Linked DNA regions of Homo sapiens. The protein of the gene in region 2 purifies or fractionates together with the protein of the main gene of each other region. This does not show direct contact. Each region holds a gene or a part of one and is shown on either strand. Other genes may lie near its edges.

The links. The genes of interacting proteins can lie anywhere in the genome.
Region 1: the proteins of PCED1B (region 2) and S100PBP purify together in Homo sapiens (affinity purification with mass spectrometry; 3 studies listed by BioGRID and IntAct, with this or other methods). This does not show direct contact.

Annotation. Positions count from the first base shown.
Region 1 is NC_000001.11:32,813,238-32,820,673, reverse strand, and holds the start of S100PBP (S100P-binding protein), read right to left. Parts: upstream 3,022-7,436; 5' UTR 2,985-3,021; exon of another isoform or gene 2,828-2,984; intron 2,494-2,827; exon of another isoform or gene 2,329-2,493; intron 2,150-2,328; exon of another isoform or gene 75-2,149; intron 1-74. Other genes in the region: YARS1 (tyrosine--tRNA ligase, cytoplasmic), read left to right, coding at 3,430-3,486.
Region 2 is NC_000012.12:47,074,942-47,082,638, reverse strand, and holds the start of PCED1B (PC-esterase domain-containing protein 1B), read right to left. Parts: upstream 3,019-7,697; 5' UTR 2,914-3,018; exon of another isoform or gene 2,680-2,913; intron 1-2,679. Other genes in the region: AMIGO2 (amphoterin-induced protein 2 precursor), read left to right, coding at 3,637-5,205.

The sequences.
Region 1 (7,436 bases), on a different chromosome or scaffold from region 2:
ATGAAGTCAATGGGAAAGATACAATGATTATACTCTGTGAAGTATCAAATGTCCTCATATATCACAGTACCTACCTGATAGGGTTGTGGCAAGAATTAAATGAGATCGTGAACATAAATGTGGCACACTAGAGGCATGGCATAAGAGACAAATAACTGGTGGCCATAGTTATTATTTCACCCCACCACCATCATTGCCCCGATCCCTGGAGTCTTAAGAGAAGCATAGGGCCAGGCGCAGAGGCTGATTCCTGTAATCCCAGCACTTTGGGAGGCTGAGGTGGGTGGATCACCTGAGGTCAGGAGTTCAAGACCAGCCTGGCCAACATGGTGAAACCCTGTCTCTACTAAAAATACAAAGATTAGCCGGGTGTGTGGTGCATGCCTGTAATCCCAGCTACTTGGGAGGCTGAAGCAGGAGAATCGCTGGAACCCAGGAAGCGGAGGTTGCAGTGAACTGAGATCGCACCACTGCACTCCAGCCTGGGTGACAGAGCGAGACTCCATCTCAAAAAAAAAAAAAAAAAAAAGCATAGGAACGGTAGGAAAAAAGAGTGCTAAACTGGTAGGGAATTTCCCCTAGACCCTGCTTGAAATTATCTAATATACTCTACTCTTATCTAGTTTAATCCAGCACTCAACCATATTGTCACTGAAGACCAGACTAGGTAGACATCTGAAATATCCGGCAAATTATGCAAATTAATGTTCACTGAACTATCCTTTATAGAGGTACTGGACCTCAGCAATTCACTTCAAGTCTCTGAACTTCAATACAGATGAGAACATGCATCTAAAAAGGGGGTAAATACTGTTAACTTCAAACACAGATTATCATGAGAAAAAATAGGATGTTTATGAAAGTACTCTAAACCTAAAAGTTCTATACTAAAAAAACATGGTATTTAATGAATGTGCAAGGGGGGAAATCCTCATATAAAACTGAAGTTCTTCAGTGAAATTCCAAAGACAGCCTTACTTATTACTTCTCTGTCAAAAGAAGGCTTGCTTACTTCTCTGTCTACCATCTACCACCTTTCTTAGCACTTGTCTGGTAACCTCCACTTAAAATATGGGGACCCCTTTATTTTTTTATTTTATTTTTATTTTTGAGACAGGGTCTCACTCAATCACCCAGGCTGAAATGCAGTGGCGTGATCTGGGCTCACTGCAACCTCTGCCTCCCAGTTTCAAGCGATTCTCATGCCACAGCCTCCCAGTAGCTGGGATTACAGGCGTCCACCATGCTAGGCTAATTTTTGTATTTACAGTAGAGATGGGGTTTTGCTATGTTGGCCAGTCTAGTCTTGAACTCCTGGCCTCAAGCAATCCTCCGGCCTCGGCCTCCCCAAGTGCTGGGATTACAGGCGTGAGCCACCATGTCTGGCCATATCCCTTCATTTTTAAGGGAAGAATATTTTTCCGATCTTCTAATTCTATTTCTTAGTTCCTCTACACCCCATCCTTTCTGTGACCCCATTCTGTCCTTCCACATCTCTCTCACCTGTCCACCCCCTTCTTCACACTTCAGTTTACCACCCCCTCTCTGTTCTCGAACCTCCTGGTTGCAACCTCAGAAACTGGTTCCCTTTCTATTTTTATCTCACCTCAGAAAACCTACTGCCTTCGAGCACAAAGCCTTACTTTATTGAGGCCACTAAAACTGCAACACCAGATGCAAGCCCACATCCTCTTTCAAGCTCTAAAGTCAAGACCATTACCAAGCAGGGTCTGACAGGTACAGCCAAGAGCAGAGATTATTTCCAGTGGACAAGACTTCCCCCTGGCCTTTGATTTCCAACCTTTCCCAAATGCAATACATGTGAAGCACACAGCACGAAACGCACTCAGCAGGCTTTATCACTCCATAAAAAATAGGCACAACATTTACAAAAAATCAAAAAGAACTGAAATTATCTGTAACAGTTTTGCAAATTCCTTCGAAGTAACTAAAAACACTGCAGGACGGAAAAAACAACCCAGGGCTGCAAATCTTTGCTTTAGGTAACATTTCACTAGATGAGGGTGCCAGGATTCTCCTCCCACATGGACACAGAGAACAGATGCGCTAAGCTGCAGCAACAGGTTTCTTTTCAAAAAGAAAATGTGCTTTAAAACACTTCAGGCAGGTCTGGTAGAGCTTGGAGTCCCTAATAAATACACAAAACACCGGAGATCAGGTTAGGGCAGGCCGTGGGCAATTCAACCACTTCTAGGACCTTTCCAGGGCCCACTGAGGTAATAACTGCTTTCCCTCTTGCCCTGGAAGTAACTGGTGACGCCGCCTCCAGCCCTTGAGGAGCCGGAGAAAGGGTGGCCCAGGCCCAACCTTTGGAGGATACTGCCTTGGCTCTCTCTCACAAATGCAACGGCCCGGGACGGTGTCGCCTTCCAGGAAGGGCCTTTGCGTCTCCCTCCCCCGGGGACACCGCGAATTCCCGCCTCCCGGCGGAAAGCGGGAGAAGCGAGAGTTTTCTCCCCGCCCCTCCCCCAGTAGGGGCAAACCCGCCCCTCAGCAGGCCTGTGCTGTGCGCTCCTCTCCCGGGGACCACCGTCCTCAGATCTCCCCAGGGAATGGGTCGTCCTCTTCCTGCCCCCACCCGCGAGACGCGGCAGAAAAGCCCGCGGCTATCTTCCCGCCAGCAACAGCCTCCCGCCGAGCCGGCCGGGACAGAGGCGGCCCCCACCCCCACTGGGCAGGGGACTGCAGACGGCGCTCCCCGACTCTCAAGACGACCAGGGAGCTTCCCTTTTCCTCAGCGGGGTGAGGGGCATCTGTCGCCCGCCGACTTGGAGGTGGAGGGGCAGGGACATTCCCTCGCCATCACCTCAGGAGCTAGAACGCGCCCTTCTCGCAGCAGGGCGTGGGCCTCCCAATCCCTCCAAGGGGCGGACGGCGTGCGCAACCCCCTGGAGAAGCAACAGGCGCCCCCATCCCCCTCCAAGCCGGGTAACGCCGACCCCCTCGTCCCTCCCGCTCTTCACCTCCGGAAGCCGGGCCAAAGCCTGGGCGAACGACTGCGCCTCACTCCGCCCCCTGCGCCATTTTATCGCCCCCTCCCCGACCTCCCCTACCCCGAGTCAGCCGGGCCAACACCAGGGGGAGGGCAAACCAGCAGTGATTGGCAGGAAACCGTCCCGCCTCTAGGAGGGTTGTGCCCCGCTCAGGCGCCTCAGCCCCGCCCTCCGCACCGCCCACCGTGCCCACTGGCTCCACCTTTTCCCGTCTCATCGACCTGCTCGACTCTCTGCTGCTCCTCACTTTTTCCGGCCGCTGCCGGAGGGGTCCAGGCCGAGTAAGCGGAGCGCCGAGCCCAGCTGATGCAACCTGGCTGGACTCGCGTGACAGTTCCCGGCACGCGGCGGCGACGGTGACCCAGGAAGGGGCTCTGGTGCCGGGCTGAGCGGGGGAAGCAGGGGTAGCGGAGCCATGGGGGACGCTCCCAGCCCTGAAGAGAAACTGCACCTTATCACCCGGAACCTGCAGGTCAGGCCTGGGGGTTGGAAATGCGCCGTTGGGGATTAGGAGCCCGAGGTTCAGTGATTTTGAGCCCCATTACGGGGTTCTAAGTATGTGGGGCCGGGGACTCGGCGCTGGCGCAGCTCTGAGAGAGCCTGTAGATCTCACTGCTGGTCGGTCAGTCAATCAAGCAGCCCTTCCCTGGGTTCCCCAGAAATCACAGTGGGCTCACCTCTTGCGTCCAGTTGTCTTGTGTTGGAGCCAAACTTTGAATCCAGGACTCCCATTCCACCCCCCTATTAAGTGCCAGACGTGGTGCTTAGTCGCTGGGGATACGTCAAGGGCCTGCCAGAGCTTGTCTGAAGGGGATCAGACGTTAAAAATGACCCATTACGGTTCAAGTAAGTACTGGAAGATGCTATACTGGGAGCTTTAAAGGGAAAGAGAGAAGGGAAGGCTTCCCTGAGGAAGTGACCTCCAAACTGCGCCTTGAAGGAAATGGATCCCCCCCCCTCACTCCACAAATGTTCCGTTTGTTACCAAGAACTACAGGAGTAGAAGTGAACCAGAGGAAGAATGGAAGAATAAGGAGGGAGAGCATTTCAGATGGAGGAAACAGAAATTGTGGCAAATTTAGCTGGAGTGGAGTGAGCAAAGTTATGAGGAAGCACTTAAATATTTATATTGCTTACCCCTTAACTTTTTCAGGCTTCTGACTGTTGTCACCTTATCAGCGACGCATGATTTCCGACCACTTTATTTAAATAACAAACCCTCTGGCACCAGAACTGCCCCATACCTTGCTCTGCCTTTTTTTTGTTATTGTTTCTACATAGTATACATTTTATTTATTTGTTTAAGAGAGGTAGGCAGGGACCAAGTCACGGGAGCCTTGCAGGCCTTATTCTGTTCAATTTTAAATTGGGCTTCCTTCTAAGAGTAGTGATAAATCAGTTGGGCCACACAGCCTGTTCTGTTTTTTCTTTTTAGAGATGTACTTCACATACTATAAAATTCACCCTTTTAAAGTGCACAATTCAGTGGGTTTTAGTATGTTCACAAGGTTGTGCAACCATCACACTATCTTTTTTTTTTTTTTTTTTTTTGAGGCGGAGTCTCGCTCTGTCGCCCAGGCTGGAGTGCAGTGGCCCAATCTCGGCTCATTGCAACCTCCGCCTCCCAGGTTCACGCCATTCTCCTGCCTCAGCCTCCCGAGTAGCTGGGACTACAGGTGACCGCCCCCACGCCCGGCTAATTTTTTGTATTTTTAGTAGAGACGGGGTTTCACCGTGTTAGCCAGGGTGGTCTCGATCTCCTGACCTCGTGATCCACCCTCCTTGGCCTCCCAGAGTGCTGGGATTACAGGCGTGAGCCACGGCTCCCGGCCACAACCATCACACTATCTAATAAAACTTGCACCCGTTAGCAGACGCTACCTATTACCCACTACTCCTAGCCTTAGAGAAACACTAATCTACTCTCTGTCTCCAGGTATTTGCGTATTCTGGGCATTTCCTGTAACTAGAATCATACAATATGTTTGTTGTGTCTGACTTTTTGCACTTAGCATAATGTTTTCAAAGTTCATGCATGTATTTGCACCTAGCAGAACGTCATTCCTTTTTATGGTTGAATGATACTCTGTTGTATGGATATACATTTTGTTTATCCGTTCATCAGTTGATGGACATTTGGGTTATTCCATTTACAACTTAGTCTTAACCAAAGGTTTTTGCACGCTTCCCCTAGCTAGATTCTTTGTTTCCTATTCTCTCTCCATAAAATAGTGCTGGTTGGAGACTAAAAATACACAAAACTATTAGAATTGACTCAATTGGGTTTTTTGTTTTGGGGATTTTTTTTCTGGAACGGAGTTTATCTCTTGTCGGCCAGGCTGGAGTGCAATGGCACAATCTCAGCTCACTGCAACCTCTGCCTCCTGGGCTCAAGTGATTCTCCTGCCTCAGCCTCCTGAGTAGCTGGGATTACAGACGTGCACCACCACGCCGGGCTAATTTTTGTATTTTTAGTAGAGACGGGGTTTCACCATGCTGGCCAGGCTGGTCTCAAATTCCTGACCTCAAGTTATCCGCCAAATTCGGCGTCCCAAAGTGCTGGGATTACAGAGTGAGCCACAGTGCCCGGCCTCACTCAGGTTTTAAAGGCTAAGTAATGTGACATCTTCTTGGATGGTGAGAACCCTCCAAGTGTCCACGTTGTCAGGGGTGCTCTTGAGCATGCGGGATCAGCTGCCAAAAGACTTGGAGCACAGGAGTTTAACAAGTCCTGGTAAAACATGATTCAAACCAGCAGTCTATCATGGTTTCTGACAGCCTCCCAAAACCGTAACTTGAGGAAACACTACAACCTCTTATCGGGGTACACTGGCCTGTTAGAATTTTTCCAATACTGTCATAGGACAAAAAGAAATCATTAAAGGTTTGTAAAAAGGAAAATGAGTTTTAAAGAAGTTTTTGAGTTTTAAAAGACTGTCTCTGGCTACCTTTTAGAACATGGATTGGAGGGGCCAAGCGCAGTGGCTCATGCCGGTAATCCCAACACTTTGGGAGGCCCACACGGGCAGATCACTTGAGGTTGGGAGTTCAAGACCAGCCTGGCCAACATAGTGAAACCCCATCTCTACTAAAAATACAAAAATTTCTCTGGCCTGGTGGCGGGCACCTGTAATTCCAGCTATTTGGGAGACTGAAGCAGGAGAATCGTTTGAACCCGGGAGCAGAGGTTGCAGTGACTCAGGATTGCATCACTGCACTCCAGCTTGGGTGACAGAGCAAGACTCCGTCTCAAAAAAATAAAAAAGAACTTGGATTGGAGGGAGTAAGAGTAGATTTGGGAGACCTGTTAGGAGAATGTTACGGTAATCCTGGTGTGATCTGATAGGGCCTGGATTTGGGTGGTGATGTAGAGGCAGAGAGAAATAGGAGGGTTGAAGAGCAGTTTTGGAGTCCTTGAACAACTCTAAATGATGGTACCATTTACTGTAGTAGGAGTGAAACTATCAGTGAAAAAGATGGTTGGGGAGTGAAGTAAGAAGTCAAGAGCATGAGTTTTATTTTGAACACGTTGAGTTTGAATGATTGGGTTGATAACAAGAACACGGTTCTGTGTATGGGCGTAAGCAGGAGATTTGGGAGTTACTGGCTCATAGTAGTAATTGAAGCAACTGAAGGGGATCAGTTAAGGAGACTGTAGAGTAAGAAGACAAAAGACCAGAGCCCCAAAGATTGCTAATATTTAATGACTAGGAAAAATAAGAACAGTTGCAAAGAAAGCTAAGCAGGCAGAGACGAGGAAAACTAAGAATAAAATAAAGGAGACCAAAAGAGGAGAATGCTTCTGGGAGGGAGTGAGGACTAAAAAATACTCACTGAATTTAGCAACGTGAAGGTCTTCTGTGATCTTAGCAAGATTATGTGTGATGTGATATGGAATTTAGTAGTATGATGTAGTATGGAATTAAAATTGGAATGGGAGATTAGGAAATGGAGCCCAAAAGAAGAGACAACTGTTACAAGAAATTGGCTATGAAAGGAAGGAGAGTGAGTTAGAGGCATGTAAACCAAAAAGTATCTGAGGCCAGGTGTGGTGGCCCACACCTATAATCCCAGCCCTTTGGGAGGCTGAGGCAGGTGGATCATTTGAGGTCAGGAGTTTGAGACCAACCTGACCAACATGGTGAAACCCCATCTCTACTAAAAATACAAACAATTAGCTGAGTATGGTGTTGGACGCCTGTAATCTCAGCTACTCTGGAAGCTGAGGCAGGAGAATCACTTGAACCCTGGAGGCGGAGGTTGCAGTAAGCGGAGATCACAGAACTGTGCTCCAGCCTGGGCAACAGAGTGAGACTCCATCTTGAAAAAACAAAAAGTATCTGAGACAAGTCTCAATTAATTTAGAGGTTTATTTTGCTAAGGTTAAAGACCATGGCACCTGACACAGCCTCAGGAAGTTCT
Region 2 (7,697 bases):
AAAACGCATAGCTCAGTGTCTGGCATATAATAAAGGCTCAGTACATATTTATTATCACCATCATTACATGTGTTAGTACTCTGTCCGTCACAAGTGACATGCAACTCAAAATAATTTAAGCTAAAAAAGGGGGTGGGGTGGAAAATATAATTAAAAAGGAAGTAAAAGTATGCAGTGGCCTTCAGGTACTACCAGATCCAGGACTCAAATAACATTTACAGGACTCCTCTTTCTCTTTCTTCTCCTTTTTTTTAAGACAAGCTTTCAAAGCATAAAAGGCAGGACAGCAACCAGCAGATTCAGTTGGGGTAAACCGTTATCTTAACCACTTTGAATAGGTTCCCTGTTCATCAGTTCATTTATCAAAAATTTATTGAATGTGTTAAGCAGGGTTCTGAGAGCTGAGAATACAGCAATACACAAAACAGATAAAACTGCTATCCTCTTGGAATTTACCTTCTAGTGGAAAGAGGGAATCTGTTAGAAGGAGAAGGGATGCTAGAAAGATAAAAATGTTATCCTCCACAAAATAAGGTCACGTCTTATACCTTAAGATCAACTCTTATCTTTCTTTCCTCCCAGCTAGTAAACTCAATCCTTTTACAACGTTCTTCCCTTTCACAAACATGTGAAATCCCCCAAATCAGGTCTTCAAATGGATAAATAGCCTTGTCTATGGATTTTGAGTGCATTTAGTTTACTTTTGCTGTGTAATCTCTGCATAATGTTTCTACAATATGCCTGTAGTTATAATAATATAACCTTCCTGTTTCCATTTTTTTGAATCACTTATTCTTTTTAGACTATTTTTGCATTAAATACAGGTCTTTCTTCTGCCTTCATGGTTTCCTTAAAATACGATGTTAATTAGTAAAATCCTGCAAAAACCTGGTCATTTATTAGTCATTTAAAAAATATTCCTCTGAGCGATTTTAATTCTATTCCTCTGTATTAACTATTCTAACTCTATAAAATTGAAGTCCTGGAGACCAAGCTTTTGAGAATCCCAGGAAGTGTGGCCTAATACTAGAAAATCTCAACTTCTGCCTCTCCCCTTTAAGTACACAGTAAGAAATGCTTGCATGAAGCATTTTAGGCTGTGTTCTTATGATAAAATTCAACTTTCATGAAATAAATTAATCTGAATCAAGTTGTCCTCATCTGAAAATGCCTAGATTTATTAGTGCTAGCCCGGCTTTATTCCACAAACAATTCTATTTAAATTAGGTGTTGGTCTAACAAATCTGCCTGACCACAGCAATGACTCACGGACCATGTAGGAAACAACTTTCACTAAATTCAAGATTGCTCAAGTGAAAAGGTGCGCGGGGGAGGGGAGGAAGAGTTGGTTGTCCTCATCATTTTTATTTTTAAGTAATATTACAAGTTATCTATCCTGCCCCAACTGTTTCCTCAATTTGGTTGCTTTTCATTCCACTGTGGTTGGCATCTTTTGTCAAGGCAGTAATTTATTTCTTTTAATCCGGATATAATGGCCAAATGGGCGATCTGACTCACTCAAATCCCATCGTTAAAACTTATCTTGGAATTAAACAAAAATGGATTTTTAATCGTAGAGCTCATCAGCCTCATAGTCTCCACCTCATTTCTGAATGGCCTTGTTCGGCTTGCACCTTCTGTGCTTGCTGAACCAAAGCGCGCTGGTCGGCCGCGGCATCTCCGGAAGGGATGAAGAGCCTCCGCGCACACGCCCCTTACTTCCCTGTCCCGCACGCGCCACGAGCACGCTTGCAAAAGACGGGGAGGTGGCGGGGACAGAGACAGAGGAAATGAGAGAGAGAGAACGAAAGAGAAAGGAGAGAGAGGGAGAGAGAGAGGGAGAGAGAAGAGGGGAAGGAGAAGAGAGAAAAAAGAAAAAAAGGTCTGCTCTGGGATTATTATTATTATTTGGGTTAATACTCTTATCTTTGCATTCCAGCCGGAAGGTCGGCTCCAAGCCTTCTTTCCTGCCCTCCTCCTTCTTGAATTGGACACCATCCCTGTTGCCGCCTCCTGAGTCAGGAAAGGGATAGAACTTTCCCAGGGAGGTGAGGGGTGTCCCCGTGGCGATTTCCCGGTTACTTCCTCCCAGCAGATATCCCTGTGGAGAGGAAACGTTCCCGACTTCCCTCCCCGCGACCTCCTCCCTAGAAACGAGCGGAGACGTCAGGCTGCTTCTGGGTTTATTTTGTAAACCCAGACAGTCAACTGCACTTGGCGCAGGCAAAGCCTCCTTGGCCCTTGCCCCAAAGCAAAGCTCTAAGAGGTCCGGGGATTCCTTGGCCTGGGTGGGGAGAGAGACGTGACCTGTGCGGCCGCCGCGAAGTGGGTCTCCAAGGGTGAGACCCCTCCCTCGGTGGCTGGGCGTGTCCCCTTTAGCCTTCCTGGACCCCATTACCGCCCGGCTTGGAGCTGGACGAAGGGACGTAATTGGTAGGCGAGTGGGTTGGGCATCTTGACTCAAGGACCAGAGTCTGGGCCTCTGGTGTGGACCCCTGCCCCCTCCCCGCTCTGCGCGGCCGTTCTAGAGGTCCGGGTGGGAGCTGGAGGAGGAAAGCGGGAGGAGGCGGCGAGGCCGCGGGGCGGTATGAGGGGGCGCCGGCCGCCTCTCGGATTGGCTGCGCCGCCGCCCCCTCCGCATCGCGCGCCCCCCACCACGCGCCCAGCCTGCTCCCTCCCGCAGGCTCCGAGCTGCTGCCCGCAGGAGGCAGGACGCGCAGGGGTGGGACCGGCGCCCCAGCCCGTCTCCCGGCCCCGGGCGCGCGGGAACCCCGGGTCCTGCAGCCTCCCGAGTGCGGAGAGGCGGGGCCGCCCGCTGCCGCCCGGCTGCCTGCGCCCCCTCCCGCGGCCCCGGCTCTGGGAGCGGGGCGCCCCGCGCGCGGGCACACGGCGGCCAGAGCGCCGAGGCGGTACCTTCAGCCTGCAATGAGAGGAACCCGGGAGAGCCCCCGGGAGCCAGCGAAGAGCTTGGCTGCTGCGTCCAGGGCTGCTGCTGCCGCCGCGGCTGCTTGAAACTCCTCAAAGTTGAGAGCCGGCTAGAGGGTGCCGCCCGCCGGGAGCCGGAGGGAAAGGAAGTCGGAAGGTGCAAGAGTGACAGACACGGACAGACGGACGCGCAGACCTTCGGAAGGCACTGCGTAGGCAGCCTCCCCGGAGCCCACGAGGCTCCCCAGCACCGTGAGTTTTTTCCTGGATGGGTGGTTGCTAAGTATTTCCGTTTAATTGTTTGTAGCGTACGTTTGCGTATAGTTGTGTCTGTTGGAGGGAGTTTAAAACAACAACAACAACAACAACAACGCAGGATGCACCTTAGGAAAAAATTGAGTTTCTGATGGTGGGTGAGACGGTGGGTTGTATGGAGAGAATGTGACTGTACATTTTTATAAGCAGGACTAACCCAGGAAAGAGGAAAAAATACATTTAACAGTGAAGAGGCAACACAGAGCTCCCTATTGTGAAATAAAACCCATTTCAAAAGTTATTGGAAAGAAAGTAAGGTATGGCTCTTATGGGTTAACTAGTGGTAGTCAGTTTCTGCTTTTTACTCCCTCTGAATTATTAATTGTTTGCCAGGTTCACTGGTGGGAGGCTGAGCCGGTGGAAAAGACACCGGGAAGAGACTCAGAGGCGACCATAATGTCGTTACGTGTACACACTCTGCCCACCCTGCTTGGAGCCGTCGTCAGACCGGGCTGCAGGGAGCTGCTGTGTTTGCTGATGATCACAGTGACTGTGGGCCCTGGTGCCTCTGGGGTGTGCCCCACCGCTTGCATCTGTGCCACTGACATCGTCAGCTGCACCAACAAAAACCTGTCCAAGGTGCCTGGGAACCTTTTCAGACTGATTAAGAGACTGGACCTGAGTTATAACAGAATTGGGCTTCTGGATTCTGAGTGGATTCCAGTATCGTTTGCAAAGCTGAACACCCTAATTCTTCGTCATAACAACATCACCAGCATTTCCACGGGCAGTTTTTCCACAACTCCAAATTTGAAGTGTCTTGACTTATCGTCCAATAAGCTGAAGACGGTGAAAAATGCTGTATTCCAAGAGTTGAAGGTTCTGGAAGTGCTTCTGCTTTACAACAATCACATATCCTATCTCGATCCTTCAGCGTTTGGAGGGCTCTCCCAGTTGCAGAAACTCTACTTAAGTGGAAATTTTCTCACACAGTTTCCGATGGATTTGTATGTTGGAAGGTTCAAGCTGGCAGAACTGATGTTTTTAGATGTTTCTTATAACCGAATTCCTTCCATGCCAATGCACCACATAAATTTAGTGCCAGGAAAACAGCTGAGAGGCATCTACCTTCATGGAAACCCATTTGTCTGTGACTGTTCCCTGTACTCCTTGCTGGTCTTTTGGTATCGTAGGCACTTTAGCTCAGTGATGGATTTTAAGAACGATTACACCTGTCGCCTGTGGTCTGACTCCAGGCACTCGCGTCAGGTACTTCTGCTCCAGGATAGCTTTATGAATTGCTCTGACAGCATCATCAATGGTTCCTTTCGTGCGCTTGGCTTTATTCATGAGGCTCAGGTCGGGGAAAGACTGATGGTCCACTGTGACAGCAAGACAGGTAATGCAAATACGGATTTCATCTGGGTGGGTCCAGATAACAGACTGCTAGAGCCGGATAAAGAGATGGAAAACTTTTACGTGTTTCACAATGGAAGTCTGGTTATAGAAAGCCCTCGTTTTGAGGATGCTGGAGTGTATTCTTGTATCGCAATGAATAAGCAACGCCTGTTAAATGAAACTGTGGACGTCACAATAAATGTGAGCAATTTCACTGTAAGCAGATCCCATGCTCATGAGGCATTTAACACAGCTTTTACCACTCTTGCTGCTTGCGTGGCCAGTATCGTTTTGGTACTTTTGTACCTCTATCTGACTCCATGCCCCTGCAAGTGTAAAACCAAGAGACAGAAAAATATGCTACACCAAAGCAATGCCCATTCATCGATTCTCAGTCCTGGCCCCGCTAGTGATGCCTCCGCTGATGAACGGAAGGCAGGTGCAGGTAAAAGAGTGGTGTTTTTGGAACCCCTGAAGGATACTGCAGCAGGGCAGAACGGGAAAGTCAGGCTCTTTCCCAGCGAGGCAGTGATAGCTGAGGGCATCCTAAAGTCCACGAGGGGGAAATCTGACTCAGATTCAGTCAATTCAGTGTTTTCTGACACACCTTTTGTGGCGTCCACTTAATTTGTGCCTATATTTGTATGATGTCATAATTTAATCTGTTCATATTTAACTTTGTGTGTGGTCTGCAAAATAAACAGCAGGACAGAAATTGTGTTGTTTTGTTCTTTGAAATACAACCAAATTCTCTTAAAATGATTGGTAGGAAATGAGGTAAAGTACTTCAGTTCCTCAATGTGCCATAGAAAGATGGGGTTGTTTTCCAAAGTTTAAGTTCTAGATCACAATATCTTAGCTTTTAGCACTATTGGTAATTTCAGAGTAGGCCCAAAGGTGATATGACTCCCATTGTCCCTTTATTTAGGATATTGAAAGAAAAAATAAACTTTATGTATTAGTGTCCTTTAAAAATAGACTTTGCTAACTTACTAGTACCAGAGTTATTTTAAAGAAAAACACTAGTGTCCAATTTCATTTTTAAAAGATGTAGAAAGAAGAATCAAGCATCAATTAATTATAAAGCCTAAAGCAAAGTTAGATTTGGGGGTTATTCAGCCAAAATTACCGTTTTAGACCAGAATGAATAGACTACACTGATAAAATGTACTGGATAATGCCACATCCTATATGGTGTTATAGAAATAGTGCAAGGAAAGTACATTTGTTTGCCTGTCTTTTCATTTTGTACATTCTTCCCATTCTGTATTCTTGTACAAAAGATCTCATTGAAAATTTAAAGTCATCATAATTTGTTGCCATAAATATGTAAGTGTCAATACCAAAATGTCTGAGTAACTTCTTAAATCCCTGTTCTAGCAAACTAATATTGGTTCATGTGCTTGTGTATATGTAAATCTTAAATTATGTGAACTATTAAATAGACCCTACTGTACTGTGCTTTGGACATTTGAATTAATGTAAATATATGTAATCTGTGACTTGATATTTTGTTTTATTTGGCTATTTAAAAACATAAATCTAAAATGTCTTATGTTATCAGATTATGCTATTTTGTATAAAGCACCACTGATAGCAAATCTCTCTCCAAAATTCTTAAAGTTGATTTTTTTAAAGGGGGAGGGGAAGGCTTTAATGTGTTCTAGATCAATTTATACCTTCCGTATGACGTTTTACTCTGATATCATTGTGCACTTTAGCCAGATCCAGAAAACACTCAAATTTATTTTGCAACAAGTGAGAGCCCAGGAGACCTCCTTATTATCCTGTCTCTGCTTTGAGGCAATCAAGTACCCTCTCTGAACCTAGGTTCCCTCATCTGTAAAACAAAGGTTTCAGACCAGATGGTGTTTAAGGTTTCTCCCCATACTGGAATGAATGATTTCTTGGTGGTATTAGCATCATCACAGACCTATACTTGCTTTCTGAAACTCTACCACATACTGAAGGAATACAGGAATGGGATTAAGATGACTAGCATAGCAGTGTACAGCTTGAAGAGATGTTCCACATCATCACTCCAGCTCCTTCTCTTTTCTCAGGGACAAATGAGGCCCAGAGAGAATACGACCTGTGTAAGGTCAAACAGTGGCAGGGAAAGAAGGAGAGCTGGGGTTTAGCATTCTCCCTGGTGAAGATTGGAGGTCCAAAGAAATGACTCCTTTTTAAGGGATGGGCATAAAAAAGTGATCAAAACATTGCAAAGGAGAATCAAAGATTGATTGTCCTGGGGCTAAGAAAGAAGATAATTTTTAAAGAATGGGAGTGGGCAACAGTGAAAAATATTGCAGATAAGTAGATAAGGATAGAAGATCAACCACTGACTGGTAGTAATGGTTTTCTGTGAACAAATCAGAATAGTAATAGTAATAACGATAATCAGGGATGCATGGTGAGAGCTCCCTAAGTGCCATGTGGGGCTTTCAGTGGCAGACTGGGCAGCGGGAAGTTAAGGAACAAGTAGCCAGGAGGTGTCCTTTTAGGGAACAGTATGTAGATCCGCTGCTCGGTAGCATTGAAAAGTCCCTATTGGATGGTGTTAAAAATTACTGTCCCTGCCCCTTAAACACCAACCTCACCCTTTGGACAATATCCTTCAGAGCCAAAGATGTTACAAGCAAGCATTTTATTCTGCTTACTGCCATTAAAATAATTAGGAAGAATTCTGTGACTTGTATGACCTTGGAAATCATCACCTCTTCTTGCTTTATAGAAACGCAGACTCAAGAGATGCTGTGATTTGTTTAGGATCATACAGCTAGTCTGGACACAAGGGAAACCTCTTGATCCATGAAAGCTCTCCAGCAATGTGATATTCCGGGAATGTTTAATAGAGCTAGGACCATCCTCTGACAAGGAAGTTGGAGAGAGGATTCCTAAATTAAATCTTTTTCGGAAGGGACCGCTAAGGTTCTTCCATTCCTCAAATCCTTGATCCTATGAAAGTAAGTGTTGCATTTGCCAGGGAAATATGGACAGTGCTAGGAGTAAGGAATGGCTTTCTGGCAAAAGGATAGGATGAGCTGAGATAGAAACTAAGATACTTATAACCAAAACAAACAAACAAACAAAAGCAGAAAGAAAATCCCAAATACTGA